Regions from separate parts of the Homo sapiens genome. Here all the other regions are linked to region 1. Evidence: fine-mapped expression QTL. A gene starts in region 1. Each other region holds a variant in brackets. All regions are shown on one strand. Distances are from middle to middle.

Region 1 (4,928 bases):
AGTTCTGCCACTTCCTAGTTATGTGATCTTAGACAAATTTCCGCGCCTTAGTTTTCTTCTCAGAGAAATGAGACTAGTCCTATCCACACTATGGACAAGTGGTAGGAGGCGAAGGAGCTCACGTTTGTAAAGAGCCTTGCACGGTGCCTGAGACAAATTCAGTGCTTAGCAAATGTTAGCTCACCTCTCCCTTTTCTTCCTGTATCCGATTTTGTATACAAATGTGTAGAAAATTTACATGAAATAATGCAGAAAGATGAAAATCCATGTTTATTCTTCTTGCATTTGGTGGATGCTAGTTTACACTTCGGTGGAATGGTCAGGTTCTTCCCTCGATGTGCCTTGTGCAGACTGCCCCCTGGGTTGAAGTGGGGTGTTACTACGCAGATGGAAACAGCGGCAGAGGTATTTGCTAAATGTCCCATCAAGAAACGCATACAGGAGAGGGTTGATGCAGCAGTGGGTGGTGGCGATGAGTTTAGTGATGTGAACACTTTTGTCCAGATTGTAGCTGCTCTTGCAGTCACTCAGGGAGAAGTGTTCTTTGAAAGTGGACAGGAAAAATGCAATATTGTAGGGCGCCCACATCAGAAGGAAGACTACCATTATGGCAAAAACAAGCTTGAAAAGGCTATACCTCTGCTCCCTGAACCTTAGTGTTTTTCTCATTTGCACATAGAGAAATGTAAAAATAAATAGGGGGAGGACAAGAACCGAAATGTTCATTTTTAAAGTCAGAAAATGCTTCCAGAATGTCTCATCAGCTGGCAGGAAGGGAGTTCTGCTAAATGCACACTTGTATTTCTGGTCTTCCATCTGAGGTTTATAAACCACGAATTCAGGCAAAGTGGCCAGAATGGCTGTTACCCATGCCAGGACACTTGTAATGATGCCACAGGGCACCCTCCTCCTGGCTGAGAAAAAGTTTCCCTTGTGCAAAAACACTAGGTACCTTTGCACAGTCAGAAGGCAATTGAAAAATGTCTCACTGTACAGGCCCACGAAGTACAGTCCAATGAGAATTTTACACATGGGATCGCCCCCAGCATGAGCCCAGAAGGGCAGGGTAAGCAAGAAACACAAGTTAGAAACTGCCAAGTTTAGAAGATAGATATTTTCCACGCGTTTGAGTCCTTTATATTTTACCAGGATAAGCACAACCAGGAGATTGTCCAGGACACCGATCACAAACACAGCAGAGCAGAGTGATGGCACCAGCTGGGCTGAGAGTGCCTGGGCGTCATACTTGTCACATTGCTCTGCCTCATCGCTCTCCAGTTCACCTTCTATGAGGACATCATATTCATCCTCTGGTGCCAGCGTGTAATTGGCCATCTTCAGACTGCCCTGTGGAGAAATGGGAGATGATTTTCCCCTCCGACAGCTGCCTTATCCTGGAGGAAACAACAAACTGGACCTGGATTCATACAGCCCCACTTTCCCTTTCTGGAGCTACATTTTAGCCAGAGTAATTCCCTATTTCAGAAGACTGAAATAAACATTTCTTTAACGTGTGCCCACTTCCCCAGAGCAGCACCATTCCCAATCTAGTTGTTAAGCATGTAAGTGCTTAGCAGTGTGCCAGGTGCCACGGGAAATAAAGCTGGCATGACACCGCCTTGGTAGAACTTACCTTCTTTTAGCAGAAACAGGACTTGCCTACATGAACACAATATGTAAGAAAATATATAATTAAAGAGAACCAAGTACGATGGCTTACTTTTAAGAAACGGGTGTAGATCATAATTTCTGCATTTTAAAAAGTTTGCTCACCCCCCGAAGCAGCTTCCTGTGACAGCTGAGACGTTTTTCTCTCGAAGGGTATAAATAAATGTTTGCAAAAGTGAAACCATGCTCAGCATCAACATGGCCATAAGGGGTTAAATACATAGATGACACACAGATGACTTACCACTGGGCTGAGCTCCTGCAGGGGAAGGGCGCAGCCTCCAGACCCAGCATCCGGGAGCTGTGGGAATGGCCCCGGACAGTGGATGCCCTCCTTTTGATCAGACTGCTCCTGACCCTGAGGGGCACGAGAAACCACTGTTGATTCCCCTGGTGGCTCTACCCGCCCCACTCACCGAGCTCAGGGACCAACTGAAATAAAGTACTCAAAAGCTCCCCCAGGCCTCCAGAGGATCTCTGAAGCGTCTGAAAGCAACCGGGAAGTTGTTTCCTCCTCCCTCTGGCCCTGTACCCCGCCTTTGATTTCCCTGTGACCTTTGACAGCCGTCTTCTGGCCTTCTGAGATAAGGGAACTGTGTCACTGCCGCTCTGAGTGGTAGCAAGGAAGTGATGTCAAGGTGCTGAGAACTGCCAAGACGCTCTGGCTTGTGGCATGTGACACTCTGAGTAGGTAACAGGTACCAGCTACTGTCAGCAGGGAGGAAGGTATGTGGTGACCACGAGTCCAGACCTGAGGGTCCTGACCCTCTAATGCGGCCTCTCACCAGTGTTCGCAGAAACCCACCCGCTGATTCAATACGGGGACCAGGAACCTGCCATGACAGTCACGGTGTGTTTGGGTTTTTATTGTCATTTTTGAGGGGCACTGTGTGCTTTGGTTAAGACTGAGGCCTCAAAAGAGAATTTTAGGAAAATGGAAGCCACAGGGTGATGTCAGCTGGGAAAAGGCCAGGGGCAGAGGTGGGGTCTCAGCGGCAGTGAGCATAGGGCTGCCCTGGGTGTCAACACTGAGGAAAGCAAAGGGGTTTGCAAGCAGCCAGAAGTGATTGGTGCTGTGACTCATGGGGGAGCTGACCCCACTCGGAAAAGGAGAACCCAGAGGAGGAAAATCCCGTGGTGATGACACAGAGGCGACATCAAGTTGGGTGGGAGAGAATGTGAGGAGGACAAGTTTAACCCCAAACTGAGGCTGGGGGCTAGGGTAGGTTTGAGTCCAGAGAGAAGGAAATTGAGAGAACAGCCCAGATTTGGAATGGTGGGAGGAGGCTGTGGGGAGGGGAGGCTGTGGGAAGAGAGTGGGACGGGGAGGGCACGGTCTGGAAGAAGGACGAACCGAGAAGAGGAACTTGAAAATAATGAAAAAATCTAGATGAGCTTCTCTTGGGTCAACGACTCAGCAGCTGTGACTAACCTAATTTGGGGATCAGACCTATTTGCTTAGAATTTATATATTGATTAAATGACATCCTTTTCCCACCAAAGATGTGTCTGAGGTAGGATTGAATACAAAATTTGTACCTGTCAAAATAGAAATAGAAAATTAAGAAACTAGCCTGGCACTGAGGCGCATTCCTACAGCCCCAGCTACTCAGAAGTATGAGGTGGGAGGGTCGCTTGAGCCCAGGAGTTTGAGGCCAGCCTGGGCAACATAGTGAGATCCCGGATCTATAAACAATATAAAAATTAGCCAGATGCAGTGGCAAGTGCCTGTAATCCCAGACATTCCAGAGGCCAAGGTGGGATGTTCACGTGAGCCCAGGAGTTGGAGGCTGCGGTGAGCCATGATCATGCCACTCTGCACTCTGGCCTGGGTGGCAGAGCGAGACACTGTCTCTGGAAAAAAAAAAGAAGAAGGAGGAGGAGGGGCGGGGAGAGGAAGGGAGGAGAGAGAACTATTAAGAGAAAAATAAACACAGAAAGAGCCCAGACAAATATGTGATTGAGCATTAAATTTAACTCCACGTGTGCCGACAGACAAGGCAGAAAGAGAAACACAATGATGTTTGATGGCAGAGGAGTTGGTGCTGGTGGGAACCTAAGCTGTAAGTGCCCTCTCCTCTCTTGTGTGGGTCTCCTGTGAGTGAGTGAGTGGGGGTCATGGTGCCCTGGGACACTCTTCCCACCCCCTACAGCCTGGGATCAGCAGTGGCCCCTCCTCCTGGGTCTCTCCACCTCCTGCAGCTGGGCAGGACACTCAGGATCTTGAATGAGTAGGTGCGGGCAGCTTTACTCTCGATACTCATGGATCAGTTCCAGGAAAAGGAAGGAAAGTCAAGTCAGACTTTGAAACTTGCAAAACGCTGGGAGTACGCACACTCTTCCTCATTAGTAGAGGACAAAAACAGCAGTCAGGCACCTCATGTACCGCATGTCACAGAGTCATGTGAGATGTGAAATTTCCCAAGTAAAAACACAGAATCATGTGAGGTGTGAAATTTCCCAAAGAAAAATGTTTTGTAAATTCAGGATCACCCTGGCTTACTAATATTAGCATGACCTTCACTTTCAGTATTATTTTATTTTTGCCTGATTCCCAGCATTCTGCCTATCCACACTCAGGCCATGAGGTCCTTGAAACTTCTACATAGGAAGGAAGGAAGAGTTTAGAAGGCTGCAGTTGAGGCGAAAGGAAAGTTCTCTTTATTATTCTCATATCTGAAGCCATAATAGGGCCTCCTTGTTTGTGAAACGACATCACATTCTGCAGCCTTGGCAAGTGGTCCACAAAGCTTACCTCTGAAGGTCTGAGTTCCTCTTTATCACTATAATTTGACCCCAGTTTTAGTCGAAGGAACTATCACTGTATACTCTCATTCCCCACTACGTGTAGATCACTCATTTACTTAATTCAATTATTCAGCAAGTATTTCTAGAGTGCCTAGCCTGTGCCTAGCTCTGTTCCAGGTGCTGGGGATGCACCAATGGACAAAATAGGCAAAAATCCTGACCTTCACAGAGCTCAAGTAAATTGTAGATTAGTAGGAGAGAAGTGCTATGGAGAAGGCGAAGCAGGGAAGGACAGCAAGAGAGGCCAAGGTGGCTCAGGGATCACATTTTAAATAGTGTAGTCAGAAAAAGCCTTGCTGAGAGCTGGCTGTGGTGGCTCATGCCTGTAATCCCAGCACTTTGGGAGGCTGAGGTGGGTGGATCACTTGAGGTCAGGAGTTTGAGAACAGCCTGGCCGACATGGCAAAACTTCATCTCTACTAAAAATACAAAAATTAGCCAGGAGGGGTGGC
Region 2 (4,928 bases), 74 kb after region 1:
ATTGAGTTTTCGGGCTGACCAAGTTTATGGACTTCAATCTGGCAAACAGTCTTGAAAACAGTGACTCACTAGCTGAGGAACTCAATTTAGGACTCTTTTAGCAAGTACAAATCAAAGACTATCTAATCAGTGGGTTAAGACAGTGATTCATGCTTATGTTTTCACTACACTTACATACAACTCTTTTTCACTTTCTGAGAAGGGCACTGCCAAGACCAGCGTGGTTGTGGAGACCATAACCCAGAGGCGCTAGAGGAATTCAAGACACACACACAGAAATAAAGGGTGGGAAGTGGGAAATCAGGGGGCTTATGGCTTTCTGAGCTGAAAGCCCTGAACAGAGTTTTACTCCCATATTTATTGACAGCAAGCCAGTGATAAGCATCGTTTCTATAGATCATAGATTAACTGAAAGCATTCCTTATGGGAAACAAAGGGATGGGCCAAAACAAAGGGATGGGCTCTGGCTAGCTGTCTGCAGCAGGAACATGTCCTTAAGGCACAGATTGCTCATGCTATCATTAGTGGTTTGGGAATGCCTTTAAGGAATTTTCTGCCCTGGGTGGGCCAGGTGTTCCTTGCCCTCATTCCAGTAAACCAACAACCTTCAAGGTGGGCATCATGGCCATCACAAACATGTCATGGTGCTGCAGAGATTTTGTTTATGGCCTGTTTTGGGGCCAGTTTATGGCCAGATTTGGGGGCCTGTTCCCAACAGGGCACAACATTTTTACCTTCTAATTTAACAAATATCATTTAATTAGGTTTAAATTTCTTCTTTAAAGCGTAATGTGTGGTTTTACATGCCTAGCTTTTAATTACTCTTCAACTAATTCATGGGCCCTCTGTAATCTCTTTCCCTTCAAAGGTTACTGTTTTACTTAAATTGAATTTGGAAAGCTACATCAGGGATAGGAGAGAGATGACAATAGTGGCCATTATTAGAAAAGATGCTTTTCAAATTCTTACATTTTACTTACATCTTAGCAGAGAATCATAGCCTGAGATGTAACACATGAAATTTTGCAATGGGCTGCCCACAGAGCCAGAGGGCAGTGGTGCAGGTCCTGGGAGGTGGCCACATTGTACTTGTTTAGGCTTTGCCTGTGTCTGTGCTGCTCCCTTGCTCCTTTGCCAGAGGGATGCTGCCGTCCTGGGCAGACCTTGTTGGCTTTGTCGCTGTGAGCTTTTCTGCCTCTGAGCATTTTCTCCTGCCCACTGCCTGCTTGGCCACGTGGTTTTGGCTTCTAATGCCTTTTTCTTATCTTTTTATAAACATACACCTGATTGCCTTGCCGATTTTGCATTACTGAGCAGGTTAAGAGCTCTCCTTCTTCTTCTTTTTTTAGATGGAGTCTTGCTCTGTTGCCCAGGCTGTAGTGCAGTGGTGCAATCTCAGGTCACTGAAAGCTCCAAGCTCCACCTCCTGGGTTCATGCCATTCTCCTGCCTCAGCCTCCCAAGTAGCTGGGGCTACAGGTGCCCACCAACATGCCTGGCTAATTTTTTGTATTTTTAGTGGAGACGGGGTTTCACCATGTTAGCTAGGATGGTCTGGATCTCCTGACCTCATGATCTGCCTGCCTCGGCCTCCCAAAGTGCTGGGATTATAGGCATGAGCCACTGCACCCGGCTAAGAGCTCTCCTTCTAATGCTGCCTGCTTAAGACAGGGACTGATAGCTGTAGCGTATCCTCTGTCCTTCTTCCTATCTATTGGAGGAGGAAGCTTAGGTAAGACCTCCATTTCCTCTTTGTTATTTTGGCCCAGTGATATTGGCACTGAGGGAAGGGGAGGTGATAAGGCAGGTGACATTTCCTCCTCCTTTCCCTTTTTAGGCTCTTTTGTGTGTAACAACCAGGGCTGCTCTACTCAAAGCCCCTAACATAAAAGATTTTACTGGGACCTGATGCCTTTGTGCCTGGTGTTGTTTAAGATTTCTCCCCACTTGCTCCCAAAGTTCTATGTCTAGCATTCCTTCCTCCAGGAACCATTGGCTTTGTACTCCATTATTGACCACACTAGTTTTTAATTCCTTCAACAACTTAAATTCTAGTGGAGAGTGTTCATGAATAAACTGCTGTGGATTATTTGGATCAGGCCTTACAGAAATAGGAAAAGCACAAGGTCCTAAGGGCTCTCCAGCTATGACAGCAGAGCATAAAATTCTTTGTACTGGGATCTCTATTTCTGCCACTGAAGGAGATGGTACAGATGTTTCTGCATCTGGAGGAGGCGGTATAGGCCAATTTTTATCCTCCCTCTCCTGTTTTTTATATTCAATTGGAGCTGTGAGTAGGACAACAAATTCTTTCCAATTTTTAGATTCAGCCTGCTGTTCCGCAGAATAATAAGGAGATAATGGCAGAAGTACAGTATGAACTAAACTCCAAGTGGAGAAAACTGAAGAATCAACTTTAAGACCTTTTTGATGAGCTTGTTTTAATCCTGCTCTATCCCAATTTTCCACATCAAGAGTGCCTGCCTGTGGAAACCATGGTTTATGTGTAATAACCTTTTGTGGCTTCTGCAGGAGGTTAGTGTCAGGCCTCTGAGCCCAAGCTAAGCCATCATATATCCCCGTAACCTTCACGTGTACATCCAGATGGCCTGAAG[A/C]AACTGAAGAACCACAAAAGAAGTGAAATAGTGAGTTCCTGCCTTAACTGATGACATTCCACCATGCGATTTGTTCCTGCCCCACCCCAACTGATCAATCGACCTTGTGACACTCCTTCCCTGGATGATAAGTCTCAGGATTTCCCCACCCAGCACCTTGTGACCCCCACCTCTGCCCTCAAGAGATAACCACCTCTAACTGTAACTTTCCACTACCTACCCAAATCTTATAAAACTGACCCACCCCTATCTCTCTTTGCTGACTCCTTTTTCAGACTCAGCCCACCTGCACCAAGGTGATTAAAAAGCTTTATTGATAACACAAAGCCTGTTGGTGGACTCTCTTCACATGGATGCACATGACATTTGGTGCTGAAGATCCAGGACTCGGGAACTCCTTCTGGAGACCAGTCCCCTGTCCTCACCCTCATTCCGTGAGGAGATCCACCTACAACCTTGGGTCCTCAGATCAGCCCAAGGAACATCTCACCAATTTTAAATTGAGTAAGTGGCCTCTTTTTATTCTCTTTTCCAACTCTCTTGCTATCTCTCCACCCTTCAATCTCTCCCTTCCTTAATTTCAGTTCCTTTCCCTTTCTGGTAGAGACAGAGGAGATGTGTTTTATCTGTGAACTCAAAACTCCAGCACCGGTCACGGACTCGGGAAGACAGTCTCCCCTTGGTGTCTAATCACTGCAGGGACACCTGCCTGATTATTCACCCACATTTCAGAGGTGTCTGATCACCGTGGGGATGACTGCCTTGATCCATCACCTTGGTGGCAAGTACCACCTCCCCTGGCTGATGAGTACCACCACCCCCTCTCTCTGTGTCTCTATCCTCTCTTTTCTCTAAACTTACCTTTTTATTATGGGCAGCCTTCCACCCTCCATTCCTCCTTCTTCTGCCTTAGCCTGTGTTCTAAAAAACCTAAAACCTCTTCAACTCTCACCTGACCTAAAACCTAAGCATCTTATTTTCTTCTGCAACACCATTTGGCCCCAATACAAACTCGATAATTGTTCCAAATGGCCAGAAAATGGCACTTTTGATTTCTCCACCCTACAAGACTTAGATAATTTTTGTCATAAAATGGGCAAATGGTCTGAGGTGCCTGATGTCCAGGCATTCTTTACACATCACTCCCTTCCTAGTCTCTGCTCCCAATGCGACTTGTCCCAAATCTTTCTTCTTTCTCTCCTGTCTGTTCCTTCAGTCTCCTCACCAAGCTCCGAGTCCTTTGAATCCTTCTTTTCTACGAACCCATCTAACCTCTCTCCTCCTCCCCAGGCTGCTCCTCACCAGGCCACTCCTCACCAGGCTGAGCCAGGTCCCAATTCTTCCTCAGCCTCTACTCCCCTACGCTGTAATCCTTCTATCACCTCCCCTCCTCACACCCAGTCCAGCTTATGGTTTCATTCCACGACTAGCACTCCTCCACTTGCCCAACAATTTCCTCTTAGAGAGGTGGCAAGAGCTGAAGGCATAGTCAAGATTAATGTTCCTTTTACTTTATCTGACCTCTCCCAAATTAGTTAGCATTTAGGCTCTTTTTTTTTCATCAAATATGAAAACGCAGCCCAGTCCATGGTCCCTTTGGCAACAACTCTTAGACATTTTACTGCCCTAGGTTCAGAGGGGCCAGAAGGCTGTCTTACTCTCAATATGCATTTTATTACCCAATCCACTCCCAACATTAAAAAAGCTTCAAAAATTAGATTATGGCCCTCAAACCCCACAACAGGACTTAATTAACCTCACCTTCAAGGTGTACAATAATAGAGAAGAGACAGCCAAGTGGCAATGTATTTCTGAGTTGCAATTACTTGCCTCTGCTGTGAGAAAAACCTCAGCCACATCTCCAGCACACAAGAACTTCAAAACACCTAAACCACTGTGGTCAGGCATTCCTCCAGGATCTTGCTTCAAGTGCTAGAAATCTGGCCACTGGGCCAAGGAATGCCTACAGCCCAGGATTCCTCCTAAACTGTATCCCATCTGTGTGGGACCGCATTGGAAATCGGACTGTCCAACTTGCCCGTCAGCCACTCCCAGAGCCCCTGGAACTCTGGCCCAGGGCTCTCTGACTGACTCCTTCCCAGATCTTCTCAGCTTAGCAGCTGAAGACTGACACTGCCTGATCACCTCAGAAGCCTCCTGGATCATCACAGACACTTTGGGTAACTCTTACAGTGGAGGGTAAGTCTGTCCCTTTCTTAATCAATATGGAGGCTACCCACTCCATATTACTTTCCTTTCAAGGGCCTGTTTCCCTTGCCTCCATAACTGTTGTGGTTATTGATGGTCAGGCTGC
Region 3 (4,928 bases), 250 kb after region 1:
AGACCGAATCTATGGTTGATTGAGATACCTGAAAGAGACAGAGAGAATGAAACTAATTTGGGAAACATATTTCAGGATATCATCCAGGGGAATTTCCCCAACCTAGATAGACAGGCCAACATTCAAATTCAGGAAACGCAGAGAACTCCATCTCCACAAGAAGATTATCCCCAAGACACAATCATAAAATTCTCCAAGGTCAAAATGAAAAAAAAAAAAAAAAAAAAAAAAAATGTTAAGGGCAGCCAGAGAGAAATGCCAGATCACCTACAAAGGGAAGCCCATCAGACTAACAGCAAACCTCTCAGTGGAAACCCTGTAAGCCAGAAGAGATTGGAGGCCAATATTCAACATTCTTAAAGAAAAGAAATTCCAACCCAGAATTTCATATGTGGCCAAACTAAGCTTCATAAGCAAAAGAGAAATAAGATTCTTTTCAGACAAGCAAATGCTGAGAGAATTCATTACCACCAGACCTGCCTTAAAAGAGCTCCTGAAGGAAGCACTAAACATGGAAAGGAAAAATTGTTACCAGCCACTGCAAAAACACACTGAAATACACAGACAGGTGACACTAGGAAGCAACCACATAAACCAGTCTGCAAAATAACCAGCTAGCATTATGATGACAGGATCAAATTCACATTTAACAATATTATCTTTAACCTTAAATGTAAATGGGCTAAATGCCCCAATTAAAAGACACAGAGTGGCGAACTGGATAAGGAATTGGTATGCTGTCTTTAAGAGACCCATCTCACATGCAAAGACATACATAGGCTCAGAATAAAGGGATGGAGAAAAATTTACCAAGCAAATGGAAAACACAAAAAGCCAGGGCTGAAGTCTAGTTTTTGACAAATTGACTTTAAACTAACAAAGATTTAAAAAGACAAAGAAGGGTATTACATAATGGTAAAGGGTTCAATTCAACAAAAACAGCTAACTGTCCTAAATAGATATGTACCCAACACAGGAGCACTCAGATTCATAAAGCAAGTTCTTAGAGACCTTGAAAGAGACTTAGATTCCCACACAATAACTGTGGGACACTTTAACACCCCACTGACAATATTAGACAGATCATTGAGACAGAAAATTAACAAAAGATATTCAGTACCTGAACTCAGCTATGGATCAAATGGACGTGATAAATATCTACAGAACCCTCCACCAAAAAACAACAGAATATATTATTGTCTCATCTCCACATGGCACTTACTCTAAAATTGATCAAATAATCAGGAAGTAAAACACTCCTCAGCAAATGCAAAAGAACTGAAATAATAACAAATGAATCTCCTGTACCACAGTGCAATCAAATTAGAACTCAAGACTAAGAAATCTACTCAAAACCATGCAAGTACATGGAAATTGAACAACCTGCTCCTGAATGACTCTTGGGTAAAAAGTAAAATTAAAGCAGAAATCAAGAAGTTATTTGAAACTAATGAGAACAAAGATACAATATACTAGAATCTCTGGGACACAGCTAAGGCACTGTTAAGAGGGAAATTTATAACACTAAATACCCACATCAAAAATCTAGAAAGATCTCAAGTTAATAACCTAACATCACAACTAAAGGAACTAGAGAACCAAGAGAAAACAAACCCCAAATGTAGCAGAAGACAAGAAATAACCAAGATCAGAGCTGAACTGAAGGAGATAGAGACACAAAAAAACCTTCAAAAGATCAACAAATAAAGTAGCTGGCTTTTTGAAAAAATTAATAAAATAGACCACTACCTAGGCTAATAAAGAAGATAAAAGATTCAAATAAGCACAATCAGAAATGATAAAGGAGATATTACAACTGACCCCACAGAAATACAAATAACCATAAGAGACTACTAAGAACACCTATATGCCCACAAACTACAAAACTTAGAATAAATGAATAAATTCCTGAACACGTACACCCTCCCAAGACCAAACCAGGAAGAAATTGAATCCCTGAACAGACCAATAACGAGTTCTGAAATTGAAGCAGTAATAGTCTACCAACCAAAAAAGGCCCAGGACCAGAAGTATTCACAGCTGAATTATACCAGATGTAGAAAGAAGAGCTGGTACCATTCCTACTGAAATTATTCCAAAAAATCGAAAAGGAAGGACTCCTCCTTAACTTATTCTATAAGGCCAGCATCGTCCTGACACCAAAACCTAGCAGAGATACAACAAAAAAAGAAAACTTCAGGCCAATACACTTGACAATACCTCAACAAAACACTGGCAAGCCAAATCTAGCAGTACATCAAAAAACTTAACCACCATGATCAAGTAGGCTCCGTCCCTGAGATGCAAGGTTGGTTCAACATACACAAATCAATAAATGTGATTCATCACATAAACAGAACTAAAGACGGCCAGGCACAGTAGCTCATGCTTGTAATCCTAGCACTTTGGGAGGCCAAGGCAGGCAGATTGCCTGAGCTCAGGAGTTTAAGACCAGCCTGGGCAACATGGTGAAACCCCATCTCTACTAAAAATACAAAAAATTAGCCAGCAGTTGTGGCATATGCCTGTAGTCCCAGCTACTCAGGAGGCTGAGGCAGGAGAATTGCTTGAACCCAGGAGATGAAGGTTGCAGTGAGCGGAGATTGTGCCAC[T/G]GCACTCCAGCGTGGGTGACAGAGCGAGACTCCATCTCCAAAAAAAAGAATATACCTCAAAATGATAAGAACATACCATATATGACAGACCTACAGCCAATATCATACCAAATGGGCAAAAGCTAGAAGCATTCCTCTTGAAAAGCAGCACAAGAAAAAGATGCCCCCTCTCATCACTCCTATTGAATATAGTATGAGAAGTTCTGGCCAGAGCAATCAGGCAACAGAAGGAAATAAAGAGTATTCAGATAGGAAGAAAGGAAGTCAAATTATCTTTGTTTGCAGATGACATGATCCTGTAGCTAAGAAACCCCATTGTCTCATCCCAAAACCTCCTTAAGCCGATAAGCAACTTCAGCAATGTCTCAGGATATAAAAATCAATGTGCAAAAATTGCTAGCATCCCTATACATCAACAACAGGCAAAACACAGAGCCAAATCATGAATGAACTTCCATTCACAATTGCCACAAAAAGAATAAAATACCTAAGAATATAGCTAACAGGGGAAGTGAAGGATCTCTGCAAGGAAAACTACAAACCACTGCTCAAAGCAATCAGGGATGACACAAATGGAAAAACATTTCATGCTCATAGATAGGAAGAATCAATATTATAAAAATGGCCATACTGCCCAAAGCAATTTATAGATTCAATGCTATTCCCATTAAACTACCATTGACTTTCTTCACAGAATTCGAAAAAACTATCTTAAAATTCACATGGAACCCAAAAAGAGCCCAAATAGGCAAGGCAATCCTAAGCAAAAGGAACAAAGCTGGAGACACCATGCTACCCAGCTTCAAACTATACTAAAGGGCTACAGTAACCAAAACAGCATAGTACTGGTACAAGAACAGATACATAGATCAATGGAACAGAATAGAGAGCCCAGAAATAATACCACACACCTACAACCATCCGATCTTTGACAAACCTAACAAAAACAAGCAATGGGGAAAGGATTCCTTATTTAATAAATGGTGGGAGAACTGGCTAGCCATATACAGAAAATTGAGGCTGGACCCTTCTTTACACCATATACAAAAATCAACTCAAGATAGATTAAAGACCTAAATGCTTTTAAACTTAAATGTCTTTGACATAAAACCCAAAACTATAAAAGCCCTAGAAGAAAACCTACGCAATACCATTCAGGATATAGGCACAGGGAAGGATTTCATGACAAAAATGCCAAAAGCAATTACAGCAAAAGCAAAAATTTACAAATGGGATCTAATTAAACTAAAGAGCTTCTGCATAGCAAAAGAAACTATCAATAGAGTAAACAGACAATCTACAGAATGGGAGAAAACTTTTGCCATCTATGCATCTGACAAAGGTCCAATATACAGCATCTATAAGGAACTTAAACAAATTTACAAGAAAAGAACGAACAACCCCATTAAAAATGGGCAAAGGACATGAACAGACACTTCTCAAAAGAAGACATACATGCAGCCAACAAACATATGAAAAAAAGTTCAACATCACTGATTATTAGAGAAATGCAAATCAAAACCATAATGAGATACCATCTCATACCAGTCAGAATGGCTATTATTAAAAAGTCAAAAAACAACAGATGCTGCTGAGCCTGTGGAGAAAAAGGAATGCTTTTATACTGTTGGTGGGAGTGTAAATTAGCTCAGCCATTGTGGAAGACAGTGTGGTGATTTCTCAAAGACCTAGAGGCAGAAATACCATTCAACCCAGCAATCCCATTAGTGGGTATATACCCAGAGGAATATAAATCTTTCCCTATTATAAAGACACATGCATGCATATGTTCATTGTAGCACTAGTCACACTAGCAAAGACATGAAATCAACCTAAATGCCCATTAATGATAGACTGGATAAAGAAAATCTAGTACATGTATACCATGGAATACTATGCAGTTATAAAAGGGAATGAGATCATGTCCTTTGCAAGGAATGGATGGAGCTAGAGGCCCTTATCCTTAGCAAACTAATTCAGGAAGAGAAAACCAAATACCACACATTCTAACTTACAAGTGGGAGCCAAATGATGAGAACACATGAATACATAGAGGTGAACAACACACACGGGAGCCTACCAGATGGCAGAGGGTAGGAAGGATGGAGGAAGGAGGGAGAGGATCAGGAAAAATAACGAATGAATATTATTAGGCTTCATATCTTGGTGATGAAATAATCTGTACAACAAACCCCCATGACACATCCTTACCTGTGTAACAAACCTGCATATCCTGCACATGTACCCCTAAACTTAAAACAGAAGTTTAAAAAAATCAATTGCATTTTAATATACTAACAAATATACAAAAAGAAA
Region 4 (4,928 bases), 160 kb after region 1:
TCTCTTTTCGGACTCAGCCCGCCTGCACTCAGGTGAAATAAACAGCCATGTTGCTCACACAAAGCCTGTTTGGTGGTCTCTTCACAAGGATGCACATGAAATTTGGTGCCGTGACTCGGATTGTGGGACCTCCCTTGGGAGATCAATCCCCTGTCCTCCTGTTCTTTGCTCCGTGAGAAAGATCCACCTACGACCTCAGGTCCTCAGACCGACCAGCCCAAGAAACATCTCACCAACTTCAAATCCAGTAAGCGGCCTCTTTTTACTCTCTTCTCCAACCTCCCTCACTATCCCTCAACCTCTTTCTCCTTTCAATCTTGGCGCCACACTTCAATCTCTCCCTTCTCTTAATTTCAATTCCTTTCATTTTCTGGTAGAGACAAAGGAGACACCTTTTATCCATGGACCCAAAACTCCGGCGCCGGTCACAGACTGGGAAGGCAGCCTTCCCTTGGTGTTTAATCATTGCAGGGACGCCTCTCTGATTATTCACCCACGTTTCAAGGGTGTCAGACCACGCAGGGACGCCTGCCTTGGTCCTTCACCCTTAGCAGCAAGTCCCACTTTTCTGGGAAAGGGGCAAGTACCTCAACCCCTTCTCTCCATGTCTCTACCCCTTCTCTGCTTTTCTGGGGGAGGGGCAAGTACCCCTCAACCCCTTCTCCTTCACTCTTAGTGGCAAGTCCCACTTTTCTAGGGGGCAAGAACCCCCAATCCCTTATTTCTGCACCCCAACCTCTTATCTCTGCACCCCAATCCCTTATTTCCTCACCCTGACCTCTTATCTCTGTGCCCCAATCCCTTATTTCCGCACCCAGACCTCTTATCTCTGTGCCCCAATCCCTTATTTCCATGCCCCAACCCCCCTTCCCGCTTTTCTGGAGGGTAAGAACCCCTGAACCCCTTCCCTCCATGTCTCTACTCTCTCTTTTCTCTGGGTTTGCCTCCTTCACTATAGGCAAAATTCCACCCTCCATTCCTCCTTCTTCTCCTTTAGCCTGTGTCCTCAAGAACTTAAAACCTCAACTTACACCTGTCCTAAAACCTAAACGCCTTATTTTCTTCTGCAACACTGCTTGGCTCCAATACAAACTTGACAATGGCTCTAAATGGCCAGAAAATGGCACTTTCGATTTCTCCATCCTACAAGATCTAAATAATTCTTGTCTTAAAATAGGCAAATGGTCTGAGGTGCCTGATGTCCAGGCATTCTTTTACACATCAGTCCCTTCCTAGTCTCTGTGCCCAGTGCAACTTGTCCCAAATCTTCCTTGTTTCCCTCCCGCCTGTCCCCTCAGTCCCAACCCCAAGCATCGCTGAGTCTTTCTAATCTTCCTTTTCTACAGACCCATCTGACCTCTCCCCTCCTTGCCAGGCCAAGCTAGGTCCCAATTCTTCCTCAGCCTCCACTCCTCCACCCTGTAATCTTTTTATCGCCTCACCTCCTCACACCTGGTCCGGCTTACAGTTTCGTTCCATCACTAGCCCTTCCCCACCTGCCCAGCAATTTACTCTTAAAAAGGTGCCTGGAGCCAAAGGCATAGTCAAGGTTAATGCTCCTTTTTCTTTATCCCAAATCAGAAGCGTTTAGGCTCTTTTTCATCAAATATAAAAACCCAGCCCAGTTCATGGCTCATTCGGCAGCAACCCTGAGACGCTTTACAGCCCTAGACCCTAAAAGGTCAAAAGGCCATCTTATTCTCAATATACATTTTATTACCCAATCTGCTCCCGACATTAAATAAAACTCCAAAAATTAGAATCTGGCCCTCACACCCCACAACAGGACTTAATTAACCTCACCTTCAAGGTGTACAATGATAAAAAAAAAAAGTTGCAATTCCCTGCCTCCACTGTGAGACAAACCCCAGCCACATCCCCAGCACACAAGAACTTCCAAACACCTGAACCGCAGTGGCCAGGCGTTCCTCCAGAACCTCCTCCCCGAGGAGCTTGCTACAAGTGCCAGAAATCTGACCACCAGGCCAAGGAATGCCTGCAGCCCAGGATTCCCCCATCTGTGTGGGACCCCACTGGAAATCAGACTGTTCAACTCACCTGGCAGCCACTCCCAGAGCCCCTGGAACTCTGGCCCAAGGCTCTCTGACTGACTCCTTCTTGGCTTAGCGGCTGAAGACTGACACAGCCTGATCGCCTCGGAAGCCCCATAGACCATCACAGATGCCGAGCTTTAGGTAACTCTCACAGTGGAGGGTAAGTCCATCCCCTTCTTAATCAATACAGAGGCTACCCACTCCACATTACCTTCTTTTCAAGAGCCTGTTTCCCTTGCCTCCATAACTGTTGTGGGTATTGATGCCCAGGCTTCTAAACCTCTTAAAACTCCCCAACTCTGGTGCCAACTTAGACAATACTCTTTTATGCACTCTTTTTTAGTTATCCCCACCTGCCCAGTTCCCTTATTAGGCC[G/A]AGATATTTTAACCAAATTATCTGCTTCCCTGACTATTCCTGGACTATAGCCGCATCTCATTGCTGCCCTTCTTCCCAATCCAAAGCCTCCTTTGCGTCCTCTTCTTGTATTCCCCCACCTTAACCCACAAGTATAAGATACCTCTACTCCCTCCTTGGCGACCAATCATGCTCCCCTTACCATCTCGTTAAAACCTAATCACCCTTACCCTGCTCAATGCCAAGATCCCATCCCACAGCACGCTTTAAAAGGATTAAAGCCTGTTATCACTCGCCTGCTAAGGCATGGCCTTTTAAAGCCTATAAACTCTCCTTACCATTCCCCCATTTTACCTGTCCTAAAACCAGACAAGCCTTACAAGTTAGTTCAGAATCTGCACCTTATCAACCAAATTGTTTTGCCTATCCACCCCGTGGGGCCAAACCCATATAACCTCCTATCCTCAATACCTCCCTCTACTACCCATTATTCTGTTCTGGATCTCAAACATGCTTTCTTTACTATTCCTTTGCACCCTTCATCCCAGCCTCTCTTTGCTTTCACTTAGACTGACCCTGACACCCATTAGGCTCAGCAAATTACCTGGGCTGTACTGCCACAAGGTTTCACAGACAGCCCCCATTACTTCAGTCAAGCCCAAATTTCATCGTCATCTGTTACCTATCTCGGCATAATTCTCATAAAAACACACGTGCTCTCCCTGCTGATCCTGTCCGATTAATCTCCCAAACCTCAATCCCTTACAAAACAACAACTCCTTTCCTTCCTAGGCATGGTTAGTGCAGTCAGAATTCTTACACAAGAGCCAGGACTGCACCCTGTAGCCTTTCTGTCCAAACAACTTGATCTTACTGTTTTAGCCTAGCCCTCATGTCTGCATGCAGCAGCTGCCACTGCTTTAATACTTTTAGAGGCCCTAAAAATCACAAACTATGCTCAACTCACTCTCTACATTTCTCATAACTTCCAAAATCTATTTTCTTCCTCATACCTGATGCATATACTTTCTGCTCCTTGGCTCCTTCAGCTGTACTCACTCTTTGTTAAGTCTCCCACAATTACCATCATTCCTGGCCCGGACTTCAGTCCAGCCTCCCACATTATTCCAGAAACCACACCTGACCCTCATGACTGTATCTCTCTGATCCACCTGACATTCACCCCATTTCCCCATATCTCCTTCTTTCCTGTTCCTCACCCTGATCATGCTTGATTTATTGATGGCAGTTCCACCAGGCCTAATCACCACACACCAGCAAAGGCAGGCTATGCTATAGTACAAGCCACTAGCCTGCCTCTTAGAACCTCTCATTTCCTTTCCATTGTAGAAATCTATCCTCAAGGAAATCACTTCTCAGTGTTCCATCTGCTATTCTATGTGCTATTCTACTACTCCTCAAGGATTATTCAGGCCCCCTCCCTTCCCTACACATCAAGCTCGAGGATTTGCCCCTGCCCAGGACTGGCAAATTAGCTTTACTCAACATGCCCTGAGTCACAAAAACTAAAATACCTCTTAGTCTAAGTAGACACTTTCACTAGATAGGTAGAGGCCTTTCCTACAGGGTCTGAGAAGGGCACCGCAGTCATTTCTTCCCTTCTGTCAGACATAATTCCTCAGTTTAGCCTTCCCACCTCTATACAGTCTGATAACAGACCAGCCTTTATTAGTCAAATCAGCCAAGCAGTTTTTCAGGCTCTTAGTATTCAGTGAAACCTTTATATCCCTTATAGTCCTCTGTCTTCAAGAAAAGTAGAACGGACTAAAGGTCTTTTAAAAACACACCTCACCAAGCTCAGCCACCAACTTAAAAAGAACTGGACAATACTTTCACCACTTTCCCTTCTCAGAAGTCAGACCTGTCCTCGGAATGCTATAAGGTACAGCCCATTTAAGTTCCTGTATAGATGCTCCTTTTCATTAGGCCCCCAGTCTCATTCCAGACACCGGACCACCTTAGACTGTGCCCCAAAAAAACTTGTCATCCCTACTATTTTCTATCTAGTCATACTCCTGTTCTCTGTTCTCAACTACTCATACATGCCCTGCTCTTGTTTACACTGCCAGTTTACACTGTTTTTTCAAGCCATCACAGCTGATATCTCCTCGTGCTATCCCCAAACCGCCGCTCTTAACTCTTGAAGTAAATAAATAATCTTTGCTGGCAGGACTATGCTGAATCTCCTTAGGCACTCTCTAATCAGATGTCCTAGGTCCTCCCGATTCTTAGACCTTTTATACCTGTTTTTCTCCTTCTCTTATTCCATTTAGTTTTTCAATTCATACAAAACCATATCCAGGCCATCACCAATCATTCTATACGACAAATGTTTCTTCTAACATCCCCACAATATCACCCCTTACCACAAGACCTCCCTTCAGCTTAATCTCTCCCACTCTAGGTTCCCACGCCGCCCCTAATCCCGCTTGAAGCAGCCCTGGGAAACATCGCCCATTCTCTCTCCATACCACCCTCCAAAAATTTTCGCCACCCCA
Region 5 (4,928 bases), 53 kb before region 1:
AACTTCCACAAGCCACATAACTAGTTAAAGCCATAGCTCCCTCCCCTGGAGAATGGAGAGGTTGGCAGAATTCACAATACAGAGGAGCTGTGGCAACTAATGGAGACACGTATGTCTCCATTAGCTGGTATTTGTTTGGTATTTGTTCTCTTTTAACACATCCACCATTCTTAGCTTCCTCTTTTTGGATTTTTGCCTCTCCAGTGAGAAGTGAAATCTGGTCCTGTCCGCTTACACATTCCTTGCGTGACACACAGTGCTGTTTGTACAGCAGGCATCCAGTTAATGCTCACTGGGTCACAAATGGCTGCATCTGATTGGGTTAATTCTCAGTGTGGGATAGTTCTATAAAGGCTTCCAAGGCAAGATTATATTCCCTGGGATTTCCCCGGGATGAGGGTGGATGAAGGGGGAGTATGGCAGCTAGGTGTCCCCAAACCTCTGCAGACTCAGCCAGGGAGCTACAGGCCTCTTGCCCACCCAAGGGCCATGGGTGGCTCTCGCCATAAGGGGATGGCTCAGAAACAGGAGACAGCAGAGGCTGAACATTCTACCCCATAGCACATCCAAAGGGCAGAGGGCTTTTACAACTGTGTGTTTATTTTGTTTTTTTGTTTGTTTGTTTTTTGTTTTAGTTTTTGGTAACAGCTTTACTGAGGTACATTTTCCATATCATAAAAAATCACCTATTTGCGTACAATTCAATGAGTTTCAGTAACCTTACCGAGTGTGCAACTATCACCATAAATCTGTTTTAGAACACTTTTATCCCCCCCAGTAAAGGTCCCTCATGCCTGTTTATAGTTAATCCTCATTTCTACCCCAGCATCAGACAACCACTAATCTATTTTCTTGTCTCCATAAATTTGCCTTTTCTGGACATTTCATTCAAATGGAATCATACAGCATGTGGTCTCTTGTGTCTGGCTTCCTTCACTGAGCATAACTGAGGCTCGTTCATGTTGTGGGGCATGCCAGTAGTTCTTTTCACTGCTGAGTAATATTCCATTGAATGGATGTACATTCACCAGTTATTGGACATTTAGGTTGTTTCCAGTTTTCTACTATTCTAAATAACACTGCTATGAATATTCATGCACAAGCATTTATGTATGATAGGTTCTTATAATATTTCTTCTGGCTATATGCCTAGAAGTGCAATTGTTGGGTCCTATTGGAACTCTGTGCTTCACATTTTGAGAAGCTGCCAACCTGTTTTACAAAGTGGCTGGTCATTTTACATTCTCAGCAATGTATGAGGGTTTCCACTTCTCCACATCCTCATCGATATGTGTCATTGTCTGTTTTAGCTATTATAACCTGTTCAGTGGCTGTGAAATGATATTTCGTTGCATTTTCAATTTGCATTTTTGACTAATGATATTGAGCACTTTTCATGTGCTTATTGTCCATTCATATATCTTCTTTGGTAAAATGTCTGTTCTTATCATTTACCCGTCATGTACTAAATCCTTTTTGATGTTATACTATCTAGCATTATGTTCTTAATTTCATTTTTAGATTGTTCTGTGCTGTATGCAAAAATATGATCAATTTTTGTATATTGATCTTGTATCCTGTGGCCTGGCTGTACTTGTTTATTAATTCTAATAGTACTTTGTAGATTCTTCAGTATTTTCTACATAGAAGATCATGTTATCTGAAAGTAAAGTCAGTTTTACTTCTTTCTTTCCAATATGGGTGTCTCATTTCTTTTCTTGCCTTATTGCTGTGACTAGAATCTCTAGTACTGTTGAATAGAAGAGTTGAGTGTGGACACTCTCTCATCATTCCTGATCTTAGGTGGAAAGCAGTCAGTCTTTCACCATTTTAGTATGATGTTCATTGCAGGTTTTTTGTGGATGCCTTTTATCAGGCAACCAGGTGAGTAAATTCAATGCATCTTCCTCCCTAATTACATGGATTTGAGCAACAAAAGCAGGCTCAAAAGAAGAACCAGTATTTGAGCAAAAAAAGCAGGCTCAACAGGAGCACCAGTCTTTCTGTGCAGAGTGAATGGTGGTAGCTCAGGCACACCAACCAACTGATTTGTCCCCATTGACACTGACTTACCATTTACCTCAGCTACCAACCGACTCAGGTATATTTTCCCCTGTTCTCTTGGCATTCCCTGGGAAGAGATTTATGCACAAAACAATCTAGAGAGACGTGGATTCTCAGCTGGGCTCTGCACTGCTGAGTGGCGAGTCACTCAGCCTCCTTAGGAGCCAATTTCCACATCAGTAAAACAGGAGCAATGACTCCTTTCCTGCCTACCTTCCAGGTTCAAAGTGGGCAAAGCTGGTAGAAGAATTCCATAACTGATCTGGGGGATCACCATCATTTTTTAAGTGGTAGGAAACATGTCAAAGTCATAGGAATGAAAATAATCTAGAGGGACTTTCTCCTTTAATTTATTGAGAACCACAGACCTCTAGCCAATGCAGAGATCCTATTAGTCCAGCAAGATGCCTCCACTTGTGGAGAATGGCTGGACATAGCCATGAAATGGAGAGGGAAGGAGGGCAGCCGAGAGAGAGGGAGGAGTCTGGAAAACTCCATCAGAGGGTGCGGTGGTCACGCCCTCAGTCAGTGGTTGAATCCTTACTCCTTGGCCCCTCTCTCCCAGGACTGTGTCTGGCTGGCCGTAGGAGGAGTGTTCAGTGGTGCGCCGTATCCCAACCCGAGGCCACAAAATGCTTCCAATGGCAAAGGAATATGAGAA[A/G]AGTGCGTGGCCCTCCTGTCAGCTGCATAAAGAGAGACTCCCCCATCCAGTGTATCCAGGCCATTGCGGTGAGTCAATGCCGGGTGTTGGTTGGGACCAAGCTGAATGGAAGGGAGAGAGAAATGGAAAAAGATAGAACACGAGCTCTCCTTACTTCCTCTGCTTCACCTGTTGGGCAACGAAGTGGGGAGCCGTCCTCTCTCACAGGGAACTGTGCTATTTTCAGAGCAGAAAGGAAGGAGCTTAAGTCAAGAGACCATGTGTGAGGAACCTGGAGCCTCCACATAAACTATAATAACAACTGTTATTCATTAATAACAACTGTTCCAAAATGAAATGTAATCAGTTGTATTTGATGAATACATAGGATCAGCAAAAAGCAAAGTTACTCAGAGAGGGAAATCCTCCAAAAGAGTCATGACCTCTAAACCCTGTGAGAAAGAAGCTTGTCCTGGTCACCGTTGCCACATCACATGGCTGGGGCAGGGCCTGCCAGGGTGCTGGGTGTTAGAAAGACTTTTGTCCAAGACACTTTCAGAGAGAGAGAAAAGGGTATCATGACTTGTATATGATTTCTGATTCCTTTTATTTTTTGAGATGTAAGATCTACTGAAATGATTTTTACTCATTCATTCAACAAATATATTCTGTGTACCTGCCATGTGCCATAATCATGTGTACTCAACTCCAGCAGAGTGAATAATTTGCATAAAAGTTCCCGAGGCAACTTCATAGGATTATCTTATAAATACAATGGAGTTATTAGAATAGCACTTAGGGAAAAATCTAGTTTAATCAATGTTTTAGGCTATTATTTTACAACTATTACCTGCATACAAACAGTACCAGTGGCTGGGCGCGGTGGCTCACGCCCGTAATTTCAGCACTTTGGAGGCCGAGGTGGGAGGATCACCTGAGGTCAGTAGTTCAAAACCAGGATGGCCAACATGGTGAAACCCTGCCTCTACTAAAAATACAAAAATTAGCTGGGTGTGGTGGCACATGCCTGTATTCCCAGCTACTTACAAGGCTGAGGCAGGAGAATCACTTGAACCCGGGAGGGGGAGGTTGCAGTGAGCCAAGATCATGCTATTGCACTCCAGCCTGGGCGACAAGAGCGAGACTCCATCTCAAAAAACAAAAAACAAAAACAAAAAACCAGCACCAGCATCTCTTGCTTGTTTAAAATGCAGATTCCTAGGCTCTATTCTAACCTACTCAATCTGAATATATGTGAAAGAAGCCACAAAATCTGCCTTTTAAAATAAGATCCTGTCCAAGGCCATACCACGCTGAACGCGTCTGATCTCGTCTGATCTCGGAAAATAAGATCCCTGTTTGAAATCAGTACTACATACCATTCATTCAAATAAAGTTGAGATAGATTAAATGGTTAAAAATAAAACTTGTATTATTGAAAAACTAGGGGGCAGGTTAACTAGCAGAACTGTAGAGGAAATAGAAATCTCTTAAATGATGATCTAAATCACGAAACAAACAGATATTCTAAAATACAGAAAATGTAATTCATAGCCCATAGAAAATATTTAAATAAAAAAATTAGAAAGGACTGGAATGAATGAATATGCGCCAGCTCTGACACATGATTACTATTTACACTCTATAAAAGAATAACTCAAGGCCGGGCGTGGTGGCTCACATCTGTAATCCCAGCACTTTGGGAGGTCAAGGCAGGTGGATCACGAGGTCAGGAGATCAAGACCATCCTGGCTAAGATGGTGAAACCCCATCTCTACTAAACATACAAAAAAAAAAAAATTAGCCAGGCATGGTGGCACACGCCTGTAGTCCCAGCTACTCAGGAGGCTGAGGCAAGAGAATCGCTTTAACCCGGGAGGTGGAGGTTGCAGTGAGCTGAGATGGTACCACTGCACTCCAGCCTGGGTGACTCCGCTCGAAAAAATAAATAAATAAAAGAATAACCCAAATTGGAAAAAATGTAGAATCATAGAAGAAAAATGATATGAACAGAGTTACCAGTAAGAGGGAATTCATAATTAATAAAAAATACTTGTGAGATGTTCCCCTTACTAATCAGACCTGAGCGATTTGTTAGTACTCACATTTTCTATAGTAATAACAGCTAATAGAATGATAGCCTGCCCTGCTGGTGATTCAAGAGTGAAGCTGGTCCTCACGGTCAGCGCCATTCTGAATTGGTATTATAAGTCTTCTGGAAGCA

Which allele goes with the higher level. Positions count from the first base shown, and alleles are read on the strand shown. Sizes are in standard deviations (SD) of each study's normalised expression. Not every link is listed here.
With allele G in place of A in region 4, the expression in monocytes after Pam3CSK4 of the gene that starts at base 2,349 in region 1 is higher (moderate effect, 0.56 SD a copy in Quach 2016).

The links. PIP is the estimated chance that this variant, and not a neighbour inherited with it, causes the effect.
Region 2: its variant is the best candidate, but not a certain one, in a credible set for the expression of CCR5AS in whole blood (INTERVAL, PIP 0.53).
Region 3: its variant is the best candidate, but not a certain one, in a credible set for the expression of CCR5AS in whole blood (INTERVAL, PIP 0.84).
Region 4: its variant is the best candidate, but not a certain one, in a credible set for the expression of CCR5AS in monocytes after Pam3CSK4 (Quach 2016, PIP 0.69).
Region 5: its variant is the best candidate, but not a certain one, in a credible set for the expression of CCR5AS in blood mononuclear cells (TOPMed, PIP 0.51).

What each region holds. Positions count from the first base shown.
Region 1 is chr3:46,404,487-46,409,414 of GRCh38, reverse strand. It overlaps CCR5AS (CCR5 antisense RNA), which reads left to right and starts at 2,349. Exons shown (of 4, transcript NR_125406.2): 1 at 2,349-2,518. CCRL2 (C-C motif chemokine receptor like 2) reads right to left here and starts at 2,156. Exons shown (of 2, transcript NM_003965.5): 1 at 1,913-2,156; 2 at 1-1,347. The coding sequence starts at 1,335. The coding sequence ends at 301.
Region 2 is chr3:46,330,469-46,335,396 of GRCh38, reverse strand. No RefSeq gene overlaps it. Among named protein-coding and RNA genes, the nearest start is that of CCR2, 21 kb to the left of the region's middle. The variant A/C (reference allele first, on the strand shown) is at 2,615.
Region 3 is chr3:46,157,016-46,161,943 of GRCh38, reverse strand. No RefSeq gene overlaps it. Among named protein-coding and RNA genes, the nearest start is that of CCR1, 49 kb to the left of the region's middle. The variant T/G (reference allele first, on the strand shown) is at 2,613.
Region 4 is chr3:46,246,779-46,251,706 of GRCh38, reverse strand. The region is part of intron 1 of CCR3 (C-C motif chemokine receptor 3); the gene reads right to left. Among named protein-coding and RNA genes, the nearest start is that of CCR3, 6.8 kb to the right of the region's middle. The variant G/A (reference allele first, on the strand shown) is at 2,431.
Region 5 is chr3:46,457,521-46,462,448 of GRCh38, reverse strand. LTF (lactotransferrin) reads left to right here. Exons shown (of 17, transcript NM_002343.6): 2 at 2,630-2,793. Among named protein-coding and RNA genes, the nearest start is that of LTF, 4.9 kb to the left of the region's middle. The variant A/G (reference allele first, on the strand shown) is at 2,726.